Linked DNA regions of Homo sapiens. The protein of the gene in region 3 interacts with the protein of the main gene of each other region in a biochemical or structural test. Each region holds a gene or a part of one and is shown on either strand. Other genes may lie near its edges.

The links. The genes of interacting proteins can lie anywhere in the genome.
Region 1: the proteins of TGFB1 (region 3) and COL2A1 form a complex in vitro, tested with the Homo sapiens proteins (one study listed by BioGRID).
Region 2: the proteins of TGFB1 (region 3) and FMOD form a complex in vitro, tested with the Homo sapiens proteins (one study listed by BioGRID).
Region 4: the proteins of TGFB1 (region 3) and PSG9 interact in a biophysical measurement, tested with the Homo sapiens proteins (one study listed by IntAct).

Annotation. Positions count from the first base shown.
Region 1 is NC_000012.12:47,972,589-47,976,976, forward strand, and holds the end of COL2A1 (collagen alpha-1(II) chain isoform 1 precursor), read right to left. Parts: intron 4,332-4,388; coding exon 4,224-4,331; intron 3,980-4,223; coding exon 3,926-3,979; intron 3,483-3,925; coding exon 3,375-3,482; intron 3,018-3,374; coding exon 2,729-3,017; intron 2,275-2,728; coding exon 2,087-2,274; intron 1,744-2,086; coding exon 1,501-1,743; intron 966-1,500; coding exon 819-965; 3' UTR 379-818; downstream 1-378. UniProt on the Homo sapiens protein: Type II collagen is specific for cartilaginous tissues. It is essential for the normal embryonic development of the skeleton, for linear growth and for the ability of cartilage to resist compressive forces.
Region 2 is NC_000001.11:203,343,735-203,348,122, forward strand, and holds part of FMOD (fibromodulin precursor), read right to left. Parts: coding exon 3,558-4,388; intron 1-3,557. UniProt on the Homo sapiens protein: Affects the rate of fibrils formation. May have a primary role in collagen fibrillogenesis.
Region 3 is NC_000019.10:41,343,237-41,348,514, forward strand, and holds part of TGFB1 (transforming growth factor beta-1 proprotein preproprotein), read right to left. Parts: intron 5,220-5,278; coding exon 5,059-5,219; intron 1,629-5,058; coding exon 1,511-1,628; intron 1-1,510. UniProt on the Homo sapiens protein: Transforming growth factor beta-1 proprotein: Precursor of the Latency-associated peptide (LAP) and Transforming growth factor beta-1 (TGF-beta-1) chains, which constitute the regulatory and active subunit of TGF-beta-1, respectively.
Region 4 is NC_000019.10:43,258,643-43,263,030, forward strand, and holds part of PSG9 (pregnancy-specific beta-1-glycoprotein 9 isoform 1 precursor), read right to left. Parts: intron 3,497-4,388; coding exon 3,218-3,496; intron 494-3,217; coding exon 215-493; intron 1-214. UniProt on the Homo sapiens protein: Binds to the small latent transforming growth factor-beta complex, consisting of the N-terminal TGFB1 latency-associated peptide (LAP) and the mature form of TGFB1, thereby leading to the activation of TGFB1.

The DNA.
Region 1 (4,388 bases), on a different chromosome or scaffold from region 3:
GGAGTATCTCCCACGTCTCCGATCCAGCAGGATGCAGCCCACATGTGGTCTTACACCGTAAGCTGGCAGGGCACTAAGGTGTCATAGAGCTGTGTTCAGTGTTTACCTTCAAGAGCAATGCCCTCCCTCTAGCATACCTCCCTTCTCAAGTTTTGGTTTCTGGTCCTGTTCAACAGTGGGTTCCACATAGTGCCAAGGTTTACCAGAGAGGCAAGTTCATGTTTGTGTGAGGCTGCTAACCCTGGCGGTGTGGCTTCAGTGTCCTTACTCTCGGTTGAAAAATCAACAGAAGAAGTCCTTAGGACTGCTATTTGGGCATGCCTACAGAACGGAGGATTAATGGAAAACAAACTAAAGAACAAACCACAAGTCAATATGTACTTTCCAATAATCTTTTCATTTTTAATATCAATTGATGTTTTAAAAAATACAGAGGTGTTTGACACAGAATAGCACCATTGTGTAGGACACACACAGTTCCTGCGCCCGGCACCTGAAGGGAGGTCTTCTGGCCTGGGCTGGGGGCAGTCACTCAGGGGGCATTTGACTCACACCAGTTAGTTTCCTGCCTCTGCCTTGACCCGAAGGTCTTACAGGAAGACAATAAATAAATAGAACACCGAGATTTTATTTTGCAGTCTGCCCAGTTCAGGTCTCTTAGAAAGAGAGGGGAGAAAAGTCCGAACTGTGAGAGGGTGGGATGAATGGACATCAGGTCAGGTCAGCCATTCAGTGCAGAGTCCTAGAGTGACTGAGATTGGAAAGTACTTGGGTCCTTTGGGTTTGCAACGGATTGTGTTGTTTCTGGGTTCAGGTTTTTACAAGAAGCAGACCGGCCCTATGTCCACACCGAATTCCTGCTCGGGCCCTCCTATGTCCATGGGTGCAATGTCAATGATGGGGAGGCGTGAGGTCTTCTGTGACCGGTACTCGATAACAGTCTTGCCCCACTTACCGGTATGTTTCTAGGGGAGAAAAAAGGAGGAGGCTCTGTTCAGTAGATGCCTTGCTACCCAGTTCCAGCTGCCCAGAAGCCCAAAACTGAACAAACTGGCGAGCATCAGAGCCCACAAGGTTGAACCACACTGAGGGGGCTCCTGAGACCTCTTCTTGGCTTGCCAAAGGCCTCTCCACTTCAACTCCTATCCTTAGCGGCAGGGCCCTTCTCCACCCTGCCCTTCCCCTCCTTCCCCACTCCCCACAGTGAGCTCCCAACCTGTGACCGCTTCTTCACCCTGTACACATTGCGAGAACACTTCTACAGTAGTCACTGGGTTCCAGGTAGGGTTTTGTTCCCCTGAGCCAGGGGAATGGAGAAGATGGAATGATATGTGCCTCTCTCTCACCTGTCACTCAGCCTATCTTCTCTACATGACCCTCAAACTCATGCCTCTGATGATCCTGTCACTTTAGGACCTGACAGCTGCCGCGGGCCAACCCTCAGCCCTGCTCCAGGCGGTTTGGGCACAGGCAGCTCTTCTCTCTGGCAGCCCCACTCACCGTGCAGCCATCCTTCAGGGCAGTGTACGTGAACCTGCTATTGCCCTCTGCCCGGATCTCCACGTCATTGGAGCCCTGGATGAGCAGGGCCTTCTTGAGGTTGCCAGCTGCTTCGTCCAGATAGGCAATGCTGTTCTTGCAGTGGTAGGTGATGTTCTGGGAGCCTTCCGTGGACAGCAGGCGTAGGAAGGTCATCTGGACGTTGGCAGTGTTGGGAGCCAGATTGTCATCTCCATAGCTGAACTGTTGGGGCAGAGAGCGGCAGTGTGAGGCCTGGGAGCTGGCATTCAATGGGACCAGGGGCTGTAGGGGCTGCCAAGAGTTCATGGTTCAAGGACCTCAAGGGTACTGGGGCAGCAGGGAGCTAGTTGGACATTTTTGCTTCCAGGAGTGGAGCAAGCTCAGAGGACCTCTTTTCCCACCTCCACGTGGGGAAAAAATACTTTTCCTCCTCTTTCCCTCCTCTCAAGCCCAACAGAAAACTGGAGGAAAATATGGGGAAGGTGCTAAAAGCTTCCAGGGAGAAAGAAAAGAAAGAGTTTGAGGAGCCATCTCTGCTCATCATCTAGGGCACCCAGGTACTCACATGGAAGCCACCATTGATGGTTTCTCCAAACCAGATGTGTTTCTTCTCCTTGCTCTTGCTGCTCCACCAGTTCTTCTTGGGAACGTTTGCTGGATTGGGGTAGACGCAAGTCTCGCCAGTCTCCATGTTGCAGAAAACCTTCATGGCGTCCAAGGTGCAGCCTTGGTTGGGGTCAATCCAGTAGTCTCCTGCAGGGGGAAGAGGCAGCACCCATGGGGGCTCAGACAGGCACAGACACAAAAGCTTGAGAGACCCAGGCCTGACTGAAAGAGACAGAGAGGCCTACAGGGACAAGGGATGAGGTTCACATGTGGCCTGAAAGGAGGGGGACCTGGGAGGATGCAGGGGCAGGGAGATCTGCATGAGCTAAGTCCAGCCCTAAGGAAGAACACATGCAAAGAGAGCAGAAGCAGTGCCCAGCTGGTGGATGGAGTCCACCCTGAGGTCACCTCGGCCAGGTAGCCATGGCAGGACAGGGGCCAGGGCTGCAGCTTCTCTGCTGTGAAATAAGAGAGGAACCCTCTGGCGGAAACTTCCAGGCCCAGCTCTGCCCTGTACTAGGGGGCATCTCCTCCCTTGCTGCTAGGCCTAAGGGATGACTCCCTGCTTCCCGGGGCAGGGGATCCTGTTCTCCAAGCTTACCACTCTTCCACTCAGGGTGGCAGAGTTTCAGGTCTCTGCAGGTGCGAGCAGGGTTCTTGCGGGAGCCCTCGGGGCTGCGGATGCTCTCAATCTGGTTGTTGAGGGACTTGAGTGTGGCATCCACCTCGGCGTCATGCTGTCTCAGGCCACCGGCTGCCTGGTCGGCCCGCATGTACTGCAGGGGGTCGGGGCCCTTCTCTCTCGGGCCTAAGCCAGCAAAGGCGGACATGTCGATGCCAGGGCCAGGGGGACCTGGAGGACCAGGGGGTCCAGGATTTCCAGGAGGACCCTGCAGCAGGAAACAGAGAGATCAGCCAGGATTGTGTGAAAGTGCCCCTCCATGTCCATCCCCATTTGCTAGAATGTACTAGAGTGTCCCTCTTCCCAGCCCCATGGGTGGGGCGGAGGTGTAGCAGGCGAGGACCAAGGAAACCACAGCACCATGTCTATTTCTTCCTTAGCCCTTCTCTTCAGTTTCCCAGCACTGATCATGGGCCCTGTGACCTCTGAGGAGACCTCAGGATAAAGGATGCCATCACTGTTAGCTGCAGGCTGATGCCCTAAAAGAGGCCCTGAGCAAAAAAGAGCTCAAGCCTCCCGGATGGTAGGGACACCTCGACAGCAGGGAAGGAGTCAGGACACTTACAGCAGGGCCGGTTTCGCCTGATCGTCCACGGGGACCAGGAGGCCCAATGGGGCCAGGGATTCCATTAGCACCATCTTTGCCAGAGGGACCGACGGGGCCAGGAGGACCCTGCAAGAGAGAGAGGTCGTGAGGAAAGAGTGGTCACCACAGGGAAGGCTGGGGAGTCGCTGGGGCTGGGTAGGTGGCTGTCCTGATAGCACCAGCCACTCCGCCCCCAGTTCTTCACATGCTCAGTCATGGAACCCTAAGTTGGTCTCTATTTGGCCAAGAACCAGCAGGATAGCTCCATGGCTTGCCTACCCTCCTAAGCTCCTCTTTGTAAAATGCTGTTCTGTCTGACAGCGAGAGGCTGATTCATGTTTGTCTTACAGCCATTGTGGCCTCAGGCGCTTTTCTGGCCATAGGCACATGAGCCAGTCCTGCCCCCATTACTGAGTGAGGACCCCTGAGCCCACAGCTTCCCCAGAAGCAGCAGCATTTCCCTCCCCATGGGAACACAGGCCCACACTCTCTGAAGGGCCCCCTCCATCTTCCAACTCCATGTCACTTACTCTAGGGCCAGAAGGACCAGCAGGACCAGAAGCACCTTGGTCTCCAGAAGGACCCTGTGTAGAAGGAAGAGGCAAAAGGCCACGGTCAGCACAGACATATCTATCTATATTCTGGGAGCTGGGGGAACAGCTTTATGTCCCAGCCCCATTCCCTTTCCACTTCCTCCTCCCTCCAGCCCTGAGGAAATCCTAGAAACTGCTTAGGGTGATCCCAAGCTGTCCTGGCAGCACAGGGAGCTCAAGTGGGCTCTGTGTGGCAGGAGGCCTCGGGAAGTCCCACGCAGGCAGTGACACTCACAGGAGGGCCGGGCAGACCCTGCAGACCAGTGAAGCCACGGTGTCCCTTCAGGCCTCTCTCGCCAGGCTCTCCAGCCTCTCCTTTGTCACCTCTGGGGCCTTGAGGACCCTGGGAACAAGACAGACACCGATTGAGTCAGGTCAGGGCCAGGACAGGAGCCCCCTC
Region 2 (4,388 bases), on a different chromosome or scaffold from region 3:
TATTCTTAGGTGTGACCATGAGGGCTCCCCTTGGGAGAGGTTATAGGTATGAAGAAGACAGTTCCAAGAAAGACAGCATGGAGAGCTTAAAGAGGCTGATGAAAAAAGTGTTTTTAAATTAGCATTTTCAATGGTTTTCAGTCTCTGTTAAGCACTGACCAAGATAAGATGAGGTGAGGTTGCAGCAAATTAACTTGTATTGCAGGCATAACACAGAAAATCTAGGCCTAAAGAAAATTAGACACTGAGAAAAGTAGCGGAAACTGGGAAATACTCGTCTTTGGAAAACACTCCTGGTGGGGTAGAATTTCTGGAATACTTTTGGATGTTTCCTTTCTGGTCCCAAGGACTAGATTAAGTGGCCTCTGAGTGAGCAGGTTGGGGGCAGAGCCTAGACCGGGGCTGGGTCTATGTTATCTGTGTACAAGCAGAGCAGTGGGGTGAGGAGAAGAAGCAAAGTGGCTCAGCTTAAGTATCATTTCCAGCCCTACTTAGGATGGAGCTGCAGGCTCCGTGATAGATTCTTTCCCAGCCTGGAGCCCTCAGACTGCCTGCTAAAATTCCAGATCCCAGCTGTGGATAGGTAAATGTGGGACATACCTGTGGGGAGCTAGACACACAGTGTATATGGACTCTAGCCACATACTGGGTACTGTGAGCACCCCCCCGTCTTCCCCAAGCCCATGAATAGGACAGGCTTCTGCGTGGAGGCACTGGAGGACATTTTTCTAGCCCAAATTAAATACTGACATAAGTCTTTCCAAATTCCTACTGGTGTACCCGCCCTGCTCCACTGAATCCCAAAGCTTCTGAATAACATTCTGAGCTGTGTTCTTGCCAGGCTGGAAAAACTGAGGGAGATACTGATGGAAGAGGGAAGTGGCGAGGAGAGGACCACATCTGATTCCCCTGTGCGCCCCTGAGCTCCTGTTCTTCTTTAAGCTCCTCTCTCAGAAGCTTGTTTCAATCCCACCTCCAACACCCCCCATCCCCAAGTCCCTGACTGGTTTGCAGGGAGATGTCCCTCACGTTTGCTGTAGGAGAGGGGGCTGAGCTTGGGGAGCTGTTTTCCTGCTAGTGGTCTGCATCAGAGAGATATTCCTCACCATTCTCAGTCGGAGATGCCTGGCTCTAGGTCCTTTAGGTCAGGATTCTAATCTACATCATCTGGAGGACTTTGAGAGATGGCTTTACCTTCTCTGTGTCTCTTTTTCCCCAAAACAACAACAAAAACTGCCTGTCAACTTTAAAGTGGCAATGAGAAGAAAGGCTAATAATAATAGCTATCATTGGTTTTTAAATTCTATGCCAGGCCCTAGACAAAGCACTTTACATATATTAATTCACTACTTTAAGGAAAATAAAGCATTATTTTGTCTAAAAAGAAGGCTGAGAGAGACTAAGTGATACCTAGTCACGGGGCTTGGACTTAAATTGCACAAGAATTGATTTGGGAGTAGACACCGAAAATTTGGGGGTTGTTTGAACAGAGAATTTGTTTGCGGGACCTTAGGAAACTGCACTAATTTTATTTTCTGACAAGCGTCTGGAAGAGGTGGTCCACCTCCCATTTGAGTGGCAGATGTGGTTCTGCATGAAGGCAGAACGATGATAAAAGGTTGTGATGAAGCCTTTTCCATCCCAACTTTCTCTGATTGTATGGGTAGGTGCTAATAGATTCTTTCCCATGACAGCTGTTCTTTGCTGTCACAGTTTCAGGGTCAAACTTGGATGAAGCACAGCATACGTGTGACATTTCTGATGTGACTGCTCCTGGATTCAGAGTGTGTGGCAGGTAAGTAGTGGTAACTGCTGGTGTGATGATAGACAGCCACAAGGAAATGTCAAACGTCTGCAGCTTGCAACATCTTCAAGATGTCTTGGCTGGGCGCGGTGGCTCATGCCTGTAATCCCAGCACTTTGGGAGGCCGAGGCAGGCAGATCACGAGGTCAGGAGATCAAGACCGTCCTGGCTAACACGGTGAAACCCCGTCTCTACTAAAAATATAAAAAGTTGGCCGAGCGTGGTGGCAGGCGCCTGTAGTCGCAGCTACTCAAGAGGCTGAGGCAGGAGAATGGCGTGAACCCAGGAGGCGGAGTTTGCAGTGAGCTGAGATCATGCCACTGCACTCCGGCCTGGGTGACAGAGCGAGACTCTGTCTCAAAAAAAAAAAAAAAGACGTCTTAGAGGACCCCTCAATCCCCACCTTGGGAATAAAAAGACCCCAAAGAAAGAGAGATTTTAATAAAAAAGAGTTTAGGCTGTACATGATGGTGTCAGGCACTTCAAACTAAAGGTGCCAGACAGATGCCTCTTTGCCTTGCCCACCCGACTGTCAACTCCCAAATTGCCCTCTGGGGCTGGTGCCTCTCTCACTCAGAGGGCTGCCCAGCTTGTTAACATCTTGCTCAATGACTGATCTGTTCCCTGAGCACAGGGGAGAAAGGAATGAGAGGGAGAGGGTGACGACTCTGTTCTTCTCAGCGCTTTGATGGTGCGGTTCTATCTCAGCAGGCTCCACTTCAAAGCCCTTTGCCAGTGGTCGTTAATGAGTCCTCCCTTCTCCAGATGGAAGAGGACTTTGCTGACAGGAAGGGAGGTCAAGTGCTGGCTCAGTACCTTCCAGCTGGGATTAAGACATCAGAAGCCCTGGGGTAATGTAAGCATGTTCTGAATACTAGATCCTAAGACTAAAGGGAGCTGAAAATCAGCTAGATAATTCCATCTGAAATGAATATTTCTTAGAGTCAGGGAGGCAGCCTTTTTTTTTTTCCTTTGGGCATTGCAAGGAAGTGCTTATGAAACAGGAAGCCCAGTGTCCTAGGCTTGGTGGTAGTCAGGCTCATGTTACCCTAGGAAGGATATCTGCCCTGCCACCAGGGGGTCCTTGTACTCCAGGAAGAACTGACCAGAACAAGTGCCGCATTCAGCTCTGAGAATAAACACCAAAACACAAGACCAGGCTGTAGACGCAAGAGTAGTTCAAGTGGAAAAAGAGAGCTCATCCTCTTCTGGGACAGTGAGTAAGTGCAGGGCTTCAACCCACCATTCTCCTGAAACAGACTTTAGAAGCTAAACTTAAATCTCCCTCCCTTTGAAGTATTCCCTCCTAAACTTCTCCGAACTCATCTCTTACTGCTCCCTGACACATGACCCCTTCATCTCAGACACGTGACATTTCCCAGCTGTCCCCTACATCGACAGGTGACCTGTGAAAATGACTGGCTCCTTTGTGGCAAGCCTCTGTCCCAGAATGTCTCCATCCTGCATACCCCCAACCCATGCCCACTTATCTCTCAAGACCTGGAATGAAACTTACCTCTCCTGGAAAGTCTTCTTCTGTACCAACCCACTCCCCACTGAATTGTCTTAGCACTGCTATTTAGTATAAGTGTATTCTCTTTTGTACAGGGGTATGGCTTGGTTGTCAGGTTGCTTCATTTGTGCTGTCTGGTTCCCCTATTTCTATTTCTTTTGTTTTGCCACTAGCACTCAGAATAGTGTCTTTCAAGTGAAATAGACAGCCAGTCCCCGCCTCCCTTTGCCAAGGTCTCACCATTGATCCTATTGCCTTGGAGGTAGAGGTTCTCCAGGTTGGTGTTGACTGGGGGGATCTTCTGCAGCTGGTTGTAGGAGAGGTCTAGCTCAAGGAGGCTGCTGGAATTGAAGGTGTTGGAGGCCAGGCCATTGTTGGTTAGACTGTTGTGGGACAGCCGCACATACAGCAGCTTGGGCGCCCCCCGGAAGTAGCTATCGGGGACGGTGTAGACATTGTTGTGCTCCATGTACAGCTGCTCAAGAGCTGAGGGCAGCCCATCAGGCACCTTCCGAAGGTGGTTATAACTCAGGTCCAGCAAGATCAGTGACCGGAGGCCCCTCATGGAACTGCCCACTTCCTGGATCTCATTGTGTTGGAGGTACAAGGCCGTGAGGTTCTCCAGCCCCTCCAGAGCATTGTTGGGGACCCGTGAGATCTGGTTGTGGTCGAGATGGAGCTCTCTCAGGGATCGAGGCAGGGGACCGGGCATCCGGGTCAGGTTGTTGTGGTCCAGGTACAGCCTCTCCAGGTGCCTCAGCTTGGAGAAGACCTTCCTGCCCACCTTATCACTGGTGATCTGGTTGCCGTGGAGAGCAATCCAGAGCAGCCCTGTGGCATTGTCAAAGACGCCTTCCTGGATGGAGGTGATCTGGTTGTTCTGGAAGTACACATACTTCATGCGGGAGGGAACGAAGGGCAGGTACTTGAGGTTGCGATTGTCACAGTACATGGCCGTGGGGAAGTTGGGTGGGCAGTCGCACTCCTGGGGGCAGTCGCGGGGATCTGGAGGGGATGGAGAGCCGTAGGTGTAGGCTGGCCCTTCATCCACCCCATAGGGGTAAGGCTCGT
Region 3 (5,278 bases):
CAATTCTCCTGCCTCAGCCTCCCGAGTAGCTGGGATTACAGGCATGCATCACCACGCCGAGCTAATTATGTATTTTTAGTAGAGACGGGGTTTCTCCATGTTGGTCAGGCTGGTCTCGAACTCCCGATCTCAGGTGATCCACCCACCTCGGCCTCTCAAAGTGCTGGGATTACAGGCGTGAGCCACCATGCCAGGCCCCCTAATCCCTTTTTTTTCATGTGGCCAAACTACTATTTATCCTGTGAGTCTCCACACAATCACCCTCACCCAGCAAGCCCTCCTAGACTCCCCAGATGGGTCCAGGTGCCTTCTCTGGGCTCCCAACAGCACTTAGGGCGTTCCCCCATCCTGCATGCCTCCCTGTCCCAGCCTTGTCCTCCCTGCTGGTGCCTCCCCATCCCATTCTTGATCATTCTAGGTCATTCCTGCCTGGTGGGGCCTTGACAAGATCTCTTAGGTGTCCAGAAGTGACTGTGGGCCCCATGAGGGCAGAACTGAGGGCTGTCTTGGTTATCACTATGTCCCCCACACCACCCAGCACATGGCCAGGCACACAGCAGGAACCTGTGGGCAATTATTGAATAAAAGCATAAATGAGAGGGAGGTGAGGGAGAGAGATAGGGGCACCATGGGCCCTGCCAGAAACCAGACAGAGACAATCATCTCCTGGACAGATCAAATGAGTTAGTTAGGCTCTCCCTGGCCTCCAGGCCTTTGCACAGGCTGTTCCCTTTGCCTGGAATCTTTTTTTTTTTTTTTTTTTTGAGATGGGATCTCACTCTTTCATGTAGGCTGGATTGCAGTAGTGTGATTATGACTCACTGCAGCCTCGACCTCCCAGGCTCAGGTGATTCTCCCACCTCAGTCTCCCAAGCAGCTGGAACTACAGGCACGTAACAGCATGCATGGCTAATTTTTGTATTTTTGTGTAGAGACCGGGTTTCGCCATGTTGCCCAGGCTGCTCTCAAAACTCCTGAGCTCCAGTGATCCATCCTCCTTGGCCTTCAAAAGTGCTGGGATTATAGGCATAAGCCACCATGCCCAGCCCCAGAATACTCTTACACCTCTCCTTTTCCTGACCATTCTACTCATCCCTTCAACATCAGCTATGGTGCCCCTCCTCCAGGAAGCCCTCCCTGATTCTGGGCTGGGTCAGGTACCTCCTTTGGGCTCCCCATCCCAGTCCCACCCACTCTGGGTCATCACTGCCTTACAGGTCTGTTCCCCAGCTACCTAGCCAATGGACTATATGAGCTCTGTGAGGGCAAGGATGGGGCTGTTTTGGTCATTGCTGTGTCCTTGGCATCACCCATCACAGGGCAGGGCAGAGAGGTGCTCAGGAAACAGATTAGCCAATCACTCAGGTTTCCATGCCACAGAGGGGAGCCAGGTCTCAGCACTTTCACACCAGTATGGGGCGGAGAGGGGTCCTAGGCAAAGTGACCCCAGGACAAACAATGGGGTGGACCCCAGGGAGAAACAGGGGTGGGACACACAAGTAATCCTCACCTCCACGGCTCAACCACTGCCGCACAACTCCGGTGACATCAAAAGATAACCACTCTGGCGAGTCGCTGGGTGCCAGCAGCCGGTTGCTGAGGTATCGCCAGGAATTGTTGCTGTATTTCTAGAGGATGATGAAGGCAGGAGAGAGACAGTGGGTAGATGGTGTCACGACCCCACATACACTAACTGAATCCTTCACCCCATCTGCTTCCCCAAACAGGCTTCCAGAAAGTTCCCAGGCACTACCCTCTCAGACAGCCACCTGTGTGGTCCTGTGGCACCCATCCTCCCCAACAGTACCCATGAGAGGAGGGGTGGAGAAAAAGCTCAGGCTGCGGTCAAGTCACCTTCACACAGCTCAGCCGAAGGTGTTTTCTTGCCTTCTCGAGGCCTGTTTCCTCATTGGTGAAATGCTAAGCCCCACTCAGCGTGGACAGCCCACAATGCTAAAATTCTGCTGCTAACATTCTGGGCCGGGCGCAGTGGCTCACGCCTGTAATCCCAGCACTTTGGGAGCCCAAGGTGGGTGGATCACTTGAGGTCAGGAGTTCAAGACCAGCCTGGCCAACATAGTGAAACCCCATCTCTACTAAAAATACAAAAATTAGCCAGGCATGGTGGCACACGCCTGTAGTCGCCACTATTTGGGAGGCTGAGGCAGGAGAATTGCTTGAGCCCGGGAGACACAGACTGCAGTGAGCCAAGATCACGCCACTGCACTCCAGCCTGGGCGACAGGACGAGACTTCGTCTCAAAATAATAATAATAAATAAAATAAAATTCTGCTGCAAACATTCTGGGGTTTACTGAGCATACGGTTCTGCAAATTTGACACCCTGAATTCTCAGTAACTTAGAAGTCATTTCTAATGATTCCGGCTGGGCACGGTGGCTCACGCCTGTTATCCCAGCACTTTGGGAGGCCAAGGCGGGTGGATCTCCTGAGGTCAGGAGTTCAAGACCAGCCTGGCCAACAAAGTGAAACCTCGTCTCTACTAAAAATACAAAAATTAGCCAGGCGTGGTGGCACACGCCTGTAATCCCAGCTACTCAGGAGGCTGAGGCAGGAGAATCACTTGAACCCAAGACACAGAGGTTGCAGTGAGCCGAGATTGCACCACTGCACTCTAGCCAGGGTGACAGAGTGAGACTCTGTCTCAAAAAAAAAAAAAGTCATTTTGTGATTCAAATGTTTGATAATATCCCAAGATTTCCACTTCTAGAGCCTGAGAAGCTTTAGAAGACTAATGTTCTATAAACCCAAGAGTCTGCCATGCCGCACCTAGATGCTGCAGGTACCCAACATCTGTGTAGAATAATTTTCTGGGCCAGGCACAGTCGCTCACGCTTGTAATCCCAGCACTTTGGGAGGCCGAGGAGGGTGGATCACCAGAGGTCAGAAGTTCGAGACCAGCCTGACCAATATGGAGAAACACCGTCTCTACTAAAAATACAAAATTAGCTAGGTGTGGTGGTGCATGCCTGTAATCCCAGCTGCTCGGGTGGCTGAGGCAGGAGAATCGCTTGAACCCAGGAAGCAAAGGTTGTGGTGAGCCAAGATGGTGCCATTGCACTCCAGCCTGGGCAACAGGAGCAAAACTCCATCACACACACACACAAAAAAAAGAAGAATTTTCTGGGGCTGGATAGTCCACTCCAGGGACTGCAGAATAAAGCTGAATTCCCCAGACTCCAAGAAGCCAAGCTAACATAGGACAAAGTTCTCTCACTGTGAAAGTCTGAAATCTACCATCCTATGAGTTAACATTCCCTCTGATATGGATTCTAGCTCATAGAAACTGCTAGAGCCTCCAGCCCTTCCAGATGCCCCAGTCCTCTTGGAAGCTCCCTATCTTCTAGAGCAGTGCTGTCCTAAAGAACTTTCTGGAAATGTGCTTTATCTGCAACATCCAAAATAGTAGCTGCTAACCACATGTGACTATAGAGTACTAGAAATATGGCCAGTGAGAATGAGGATTTCTTTTTCATTTTTATTTTTTTGAGACAGAGTCTCGCTCTGTTGCCCAGGCTGGAGTGCAGTGGTATGATCTCCGCTCACTGCAGTCTCCACCTCCTGGGGTCAAGCGATTCTCCCACCTCAGCCTCCCAAGTAGCTGGGATTACAGGTGCCTGCCACCACACCTGGCTAATTTTTGTATTTTTAGTAGAGATGGAGTTTCGTCATGTTGGCCAGGCTGGTCTTGAACTCCTGACCTCAAGTGATCCACCCACCCTGGCCTCCCAAAGTGCTGGGATTGCAGGCATGAGCCACCACGCCTGGCCTATATATATATATTTTTGAGACGGTCTCGCTCCATCACCCAGGCTGGAATGCAGTGGTGCAATCACAGTTCACTACAGCCTCGACCTCCTGGGCTCAATCAATCCTCCCACCTCAGACTACTGAGTAGCTGGGACTAGAGGCACGCATCACCATAACAGGCTAATTTTAGTATTTTTTGTAGAGACGAAGTTTCAACATGTTGCCCAGACTGGTCTCGGACTCCTGGGCTCAAGCAATCTGCCTGCCTCGGCTTCCCAAAGTTCTGGGATTAGAGGTGTGAGCCACTATGCCTGGCCCTAAATTTTTAATTTAATTTTAAACAATTTAAATTTTAATCAAGCTAAATGTGACTAGTGGCTGTCATATTGGACAGAATGATTCTAGAGCCCCCAACCTTTTCAGAGATTCCAACTTTCAAGAATCCTGTGTCCTTAAAGAGTCCAACTCCTAAGATTCCAGCCTTCTAAGTGTTTAACATCCTAGGATGCAAAGAGTCTGAACATTTAAAAGTGCTCTAGGTTCCGGGTGCAGTGGCTCACACCTGTAATCCCAGCACTCTGGGAGGCTCAGGTAGGAGAATCACTTGAGGGCAGGAGTTTGAGACAAGCCTGGCCAACATGATAAAACTCTGTCTCTACTAAAAATACAAAAATTAGCCCAGCGTGTTGGCACATGCCTGTAATCCCAGCTACTCGGGTGGCTGAGGCAGGAGAATCACTTGAACCCAGGAGGCGGAGGTTGCAGTGAGCCGAGATCACCCCATTGTACTCCAGCCTGGGCGACAGAGCAAGACTCCATCTCAAAAAAAAAAAAAAAAAAAAAAGAGGCCAGGCGCAGTGGCTCACGCCTGTAATCTGAGCACTTTGGGAGACCGAGGCAGGTGGATCACGAGGTCAGGAGATCGAGACCATCCTGGCCAACATGGTAAAACCCCATCTCTACCAAAAATACAAAAATTAGCTGGGCGTGGTGGCGCACACCTGTAATCCCAGCTACTTGGGAGGCTGAGGCAGGAGAATCACTGGAACCCAGGAGGCGGAGATTGCAGTGAGCTGAGGTCATACCACTGCACTCCAGCTTGGCAACAGAGTGAGACACTGTCTCAAAAAAAAAAAAAAAGCGTTCTAGGATTGTATGGTTTGTGTTCTTCTATCCTTCAGGGACCATCTAGGTGGACCTTGTAACCAGCCGACCCACAGCCACCCCCTTGGTCACAGCTCACCCTCTCCAGCCCATGCCCTGACCTTCCTTCTGGCTCATGTCCTCACCTGGTACAGCTCCACGTGCTGCTCCACTTTTAACTTGAGCCTCAGCAGACGCAGCTCTGCCCGGGAGAGCAACACGGGTTCAGGTACCGCTTCTCGGAGCTCTGATGTGTTGAAGAACATATATATGCTGTGTGTACTCTGCTTGAACTTGTCATAGATTTCTAGCAGGGAGAAATGAAGGGAGGCGATCAGGGGTTTGGCAGAGGTGAGGGGAGCTGGT
Region 4 (4,388 bases), 1.9 Mb from region 3:
CCAAGTCTCCCATGACAAGAGCATCCACTCCCCTTATATTCTTGGTTAAGGCTGTGCCTACCCAGGTTTTCCCAGGGCAGGGAGTCATGGCCACCTCGGATGTCTAGAAGTAAAGGTGTCTATACTTGGACCGGAGAGAGACTGAGAGGCCTGGCATCTGGTCGTTTGGACTTAAGCTGGTGTCCTGGCCCACAGAGGAACAAAAGATACTCACAGAGGACATTTAGGATGACTGGGTTACTGCGGAGGCCACCATATCGGTCCCGTATTTCACATTGATAGGGTCCTGTTTCATTTCTCGTGACACTGGGTAGAATGAGTATCCTGTTTTCAATGGGTCGCTTTACCCCGGGACTGACGGGGAGGCTCTGACCGTTTAGCCACCAAATGTAGGTGTAGTTCTCACTCTTAGGTTCACAGGTGAAGGCTAAGACATCCTTATTCTCCCTGGGGTTTAAGTTGTTGATGGTGATGTAGGGGATGGGCAGCTTCGCTGTGTGGATAACAGAGAGAAGATTGTCCTGTGTGGCACCTTTGATTCCTCCACAGGCATACTTCAATCAGAGTTGGCATCTCCCACCTCTCAGCCCACCCGAGTCCTTGAAAGCCAATAGCTGGTGCGTGTGTCACAAGACAGATGCATGATGATCTAAGGGCTCAAAGACTGTGAGGCCGCCTGCTCTGTCTTAGGGAAGCACAGACTTTCTCAAGTGTCAATTGAGCAGCAGTGTTGGGTCATGGACAGACACATCAGTGGGAGTCACAGCCCCTGGTACCCCTCCCAGTCCCTCCCTAATCAGTTGACTGGCTGGCTCACCTTGGGTTCCTTACCTGGAATGTGCAACTGCTGGGCCCCTTCCAAATTCCATCCTACTTTGCCCCCCTATATGTGATTTCTCTGCAGCTTCCATTTCTAAGGATGTTCTAGAGATGAGTAATAATGGGACTTCCCATTGTCCTGAGACCCTGAAGATACTTAGCAGCCTGGCCTGGGACTGGATGTTTCAGCAGAAATAACACAGAGGAGACCAGAGTCAAGCCTGGAGGTCAGTTCAGTCATCAGGCAGTGGAGGCTCAAGGTGGGGCAGTTTTTTGCAGGTGTTTCATGATGACTTACTTGAACCAGTGACCTCTAAACATAGAGCAGAGTGCAAGGAATGATCTAGAAAGAGTGAAGGCGACAGGCAAGAGCTGGTGGCTTTGGAGCAGAACCATGTTCTCTGTCCTGGGTTCTTTAAGTTTCCTCTCCTTCTGCAGAGGGCAGAGGAGGACCATGTGGATCTTTCCAGAAATACATGTGGACATTTGCAAATGCAGAACTGACTGGTGGAAAGTGTGGGAATGAACTGCTGGAAATCTGGTCCTCATGGACCATGTGTGTTTGATGGATATGAGACAAACTTGGAGAGAAGTTTTGCAAATATTTTCTTTCATTGGACATTCTACTCTCTGATCCCCTGGGTTCGACTACTCTAGGGACCTCATGTAAGTGGATTCCAGAGTGAATATGAGAAGAGACTGCTGGTTGCCAGGAGCTGGGAGTGGGGAGAATCAGAAATTGTTCATGGGTGTGCAGTTTCAGTTATGCAAGGTGGGGAGGTTCTAGAGATCTGCTGTAGAGCTTGATGCCTATAGTTCACACAGATTGAGTATTTCTTATGCATAAGTCTTAGGACAAAAAGTGTTTTGGATTTCTGACATTTTTTTATTCTGAAATATTTGTCATATACTTACTGGTTTAGCATCCCAAATCTGAAAGATTCAAAATCTAAAATGCTTCAGTGAGCATTTCTTTTCAGCATCAGATTAGTAGGCAAAAGTGGGAGGTGATAAGCCAAAGATATTCTTGCCCTTTTTTTTTCTCTCACCACTTTTCTAGCTTGATGATTAGTTTTTGGTCAATTCCATACTGGCCATGCTGCACTCATATATTTTTTAAAGCTTTGGGATGTGAGAAAGGCTGATTGCTATTTTCTTTGTCATCAGAACTTTCCACCTTTTCTGGTTGCATCTTTTTCTCAGTGTTTGTGTTGTGGCAGTCATTAATAAGATCCTGTCAGGTCAGATTTAGGACAGAGTTTTCTAATTCTGCAAAAAATGTTACTGGGATTCTGGTAGGGGTTGCATTGAATCTGCAACTCAATTGGGTAGTATTGTCTTTCTAACAATATTGATTCTTCCAATCCATGAAAATGAAATGTCTTTCCATATATTGATATCATCTTTAATTTCTTTCAGCAATGTTTTGTAGTTTTCAGGGTATAATCATTTGACCTTTTTGGTTAAACTTATTCCAAAATATTTTATTCCTTTTGATGTTAATGTGAATTGAAATCCTTTCCTTAACTTCCTTTCAGATTGTTCATTGTTAGTGTATAGTCTAAAGAATGATCTAGAAAGAGTGAAGGGACAGGCAAAAGCTGGTGGTTTTGGAGCAGAAACATATTCCCTATCCAGGGTTTTTTATTTTCCCTCTCCCTTTGCAGAGGGCAGGTGGCTGTTCCCTGACAGCTAGATAGACTTCACTGGAAAACATAGTGCCAGTGCTCCAGGGACCCACTTACCAGGGACTATGATCCTCTTGATTATGAGATTTGTTCCACCAGTGGCTGAGTTATGGATGAAACAGACATAGACCCTCTATATGTTTTAGTGATTTGGGGGATAAAGAACACTTGTGCTGAGTGCTGGAACTTCCCATCAATCAGCCAAGAATGCTCTGCCAGTGGGTGAGAGTCTGTGAGGCAGGAGAGATTGGGGAATTCCCCTGTATGGTAATAGATGTATGAGGAAGAAATGGTGGGTGCATCCAGGCCATGTGGAGCAAAGAGAATAATGTCACAAGCGATATTGTCAGAGGGAAGGGAAAATCCTGGTCTGTGGAAGGGCCACAGTGACCCTGTGAGCCAAGTCGCAACACTGAAGTCCCAGCCAAATCCCTGCTGTGTTCACTGATCTGGAGCCTGAGACATTCACCTGTTTCTCCCATCACAAGCTGTGGACCCAGAGTCTCCCATGACACAGCAGCCTCTTTTCTCCCATTGTTGATCAAGCCTAGGCCTACTCTGGTTTGCTTGGGGCAGAAAGTCATGGCCAGCTTTGATGTCTAGGGGTAAAGGTCTCTGTACTTGGACCTGAGAGGGACTGAGAGGCCTGGCCTCTGGCCATGTGTATTTGGGATGGCAGCCTGGCTCACAGAGGAACAGAAGATACTCACGGAGGAGATTCAGGGTGACTGGGTCACTGCGACTGGCACTCACTGGGTTCCGTATTTCACATTCATAGGGTCCTGCAATATACTTTGTGACACCAAATAGATAGAGGGTCCTGTTGGTTTTGGACAGCTGCAACCTGTGAGTCACAGGGAGGCTCTGACCATTCATCCACCATAGGTAGCTTGCGTCCAGAGTCTCAGGATCACAGATTAAGCGCACAGCCTCCATGGCCTCCCTGGGGTTTAAGTTGCTGCTGGAGATGTAGGGCTTGGGAGTCTCCACTGTGCAGAAAACAGAGAGAAGATTGCCCTGTGTGGCACCTTTGATTCCTCCAAAGGCATTTTTCAGTCAGAGTTGGCATTTCCCACCTCTCAGCCCAACCCAGTCCTTAAAAGCCCATGGCAGGTGTGTGTGTTACAAGACAGATGCATGGCAATCTGAGAGCTCAGAGATTGTGAGGCTGCCTGCTTTATGTGGGAGAAGCACAGACTTTCTTAAGTGTGAATTGAGCAGCAGCATTGGGTCATGGAAAGACACAGGACCAGCAGTCACAGCCCCTGATGCCTCTTTGAGTCCCTCCGTCTCCAACTGCCTGACTGGCCCAACTTGTGGTCCTCACTTGGAGCATGCAGTGCTGGAATCCTCTTAGTTTCAGTCTTACTTTGCCCCCTGAGGTATGTTTTCTCTGCAGCTTCCCTTGCCAAGGACATCCTAGAGATGGGTGATGGAACTTCCCATTGTCCTTAAACCCTTTGGGTATTGGAAAGCCTGGTCTGGGACTGGGTACTTCAGCAGAAATAACACAGGGGAGACCAGAGTCAAGCCGGGAGGTCAGTTAAGACATCAGGCAGTGGAGCCACAAGGTGGGGCAGTTTGCAGTTTTCCCAGGTGTCTCATAGTGACTGACTTGAGCCAGTGACCTCTAACGATAGAGCAGAGTCCAAGGAATGACCTACAAAGAGTGAAGGGGCCAGGCAGTAGCTGATAGCTTTCGACCAAGACCATGTTCCCTGTTCTGGGTCCATGATGCTCCCTTCCCCCTGTAGAGGGCAGGTGAGGACCATGTGGATCTTTCTAGAAATACATGTGGATGTTTGCAAATGCAGAACTGACTGGTGGAAAGGGTGAACATGAACAGATGATGGAAGTCTGGCCCTCAAGGACCATATGCGT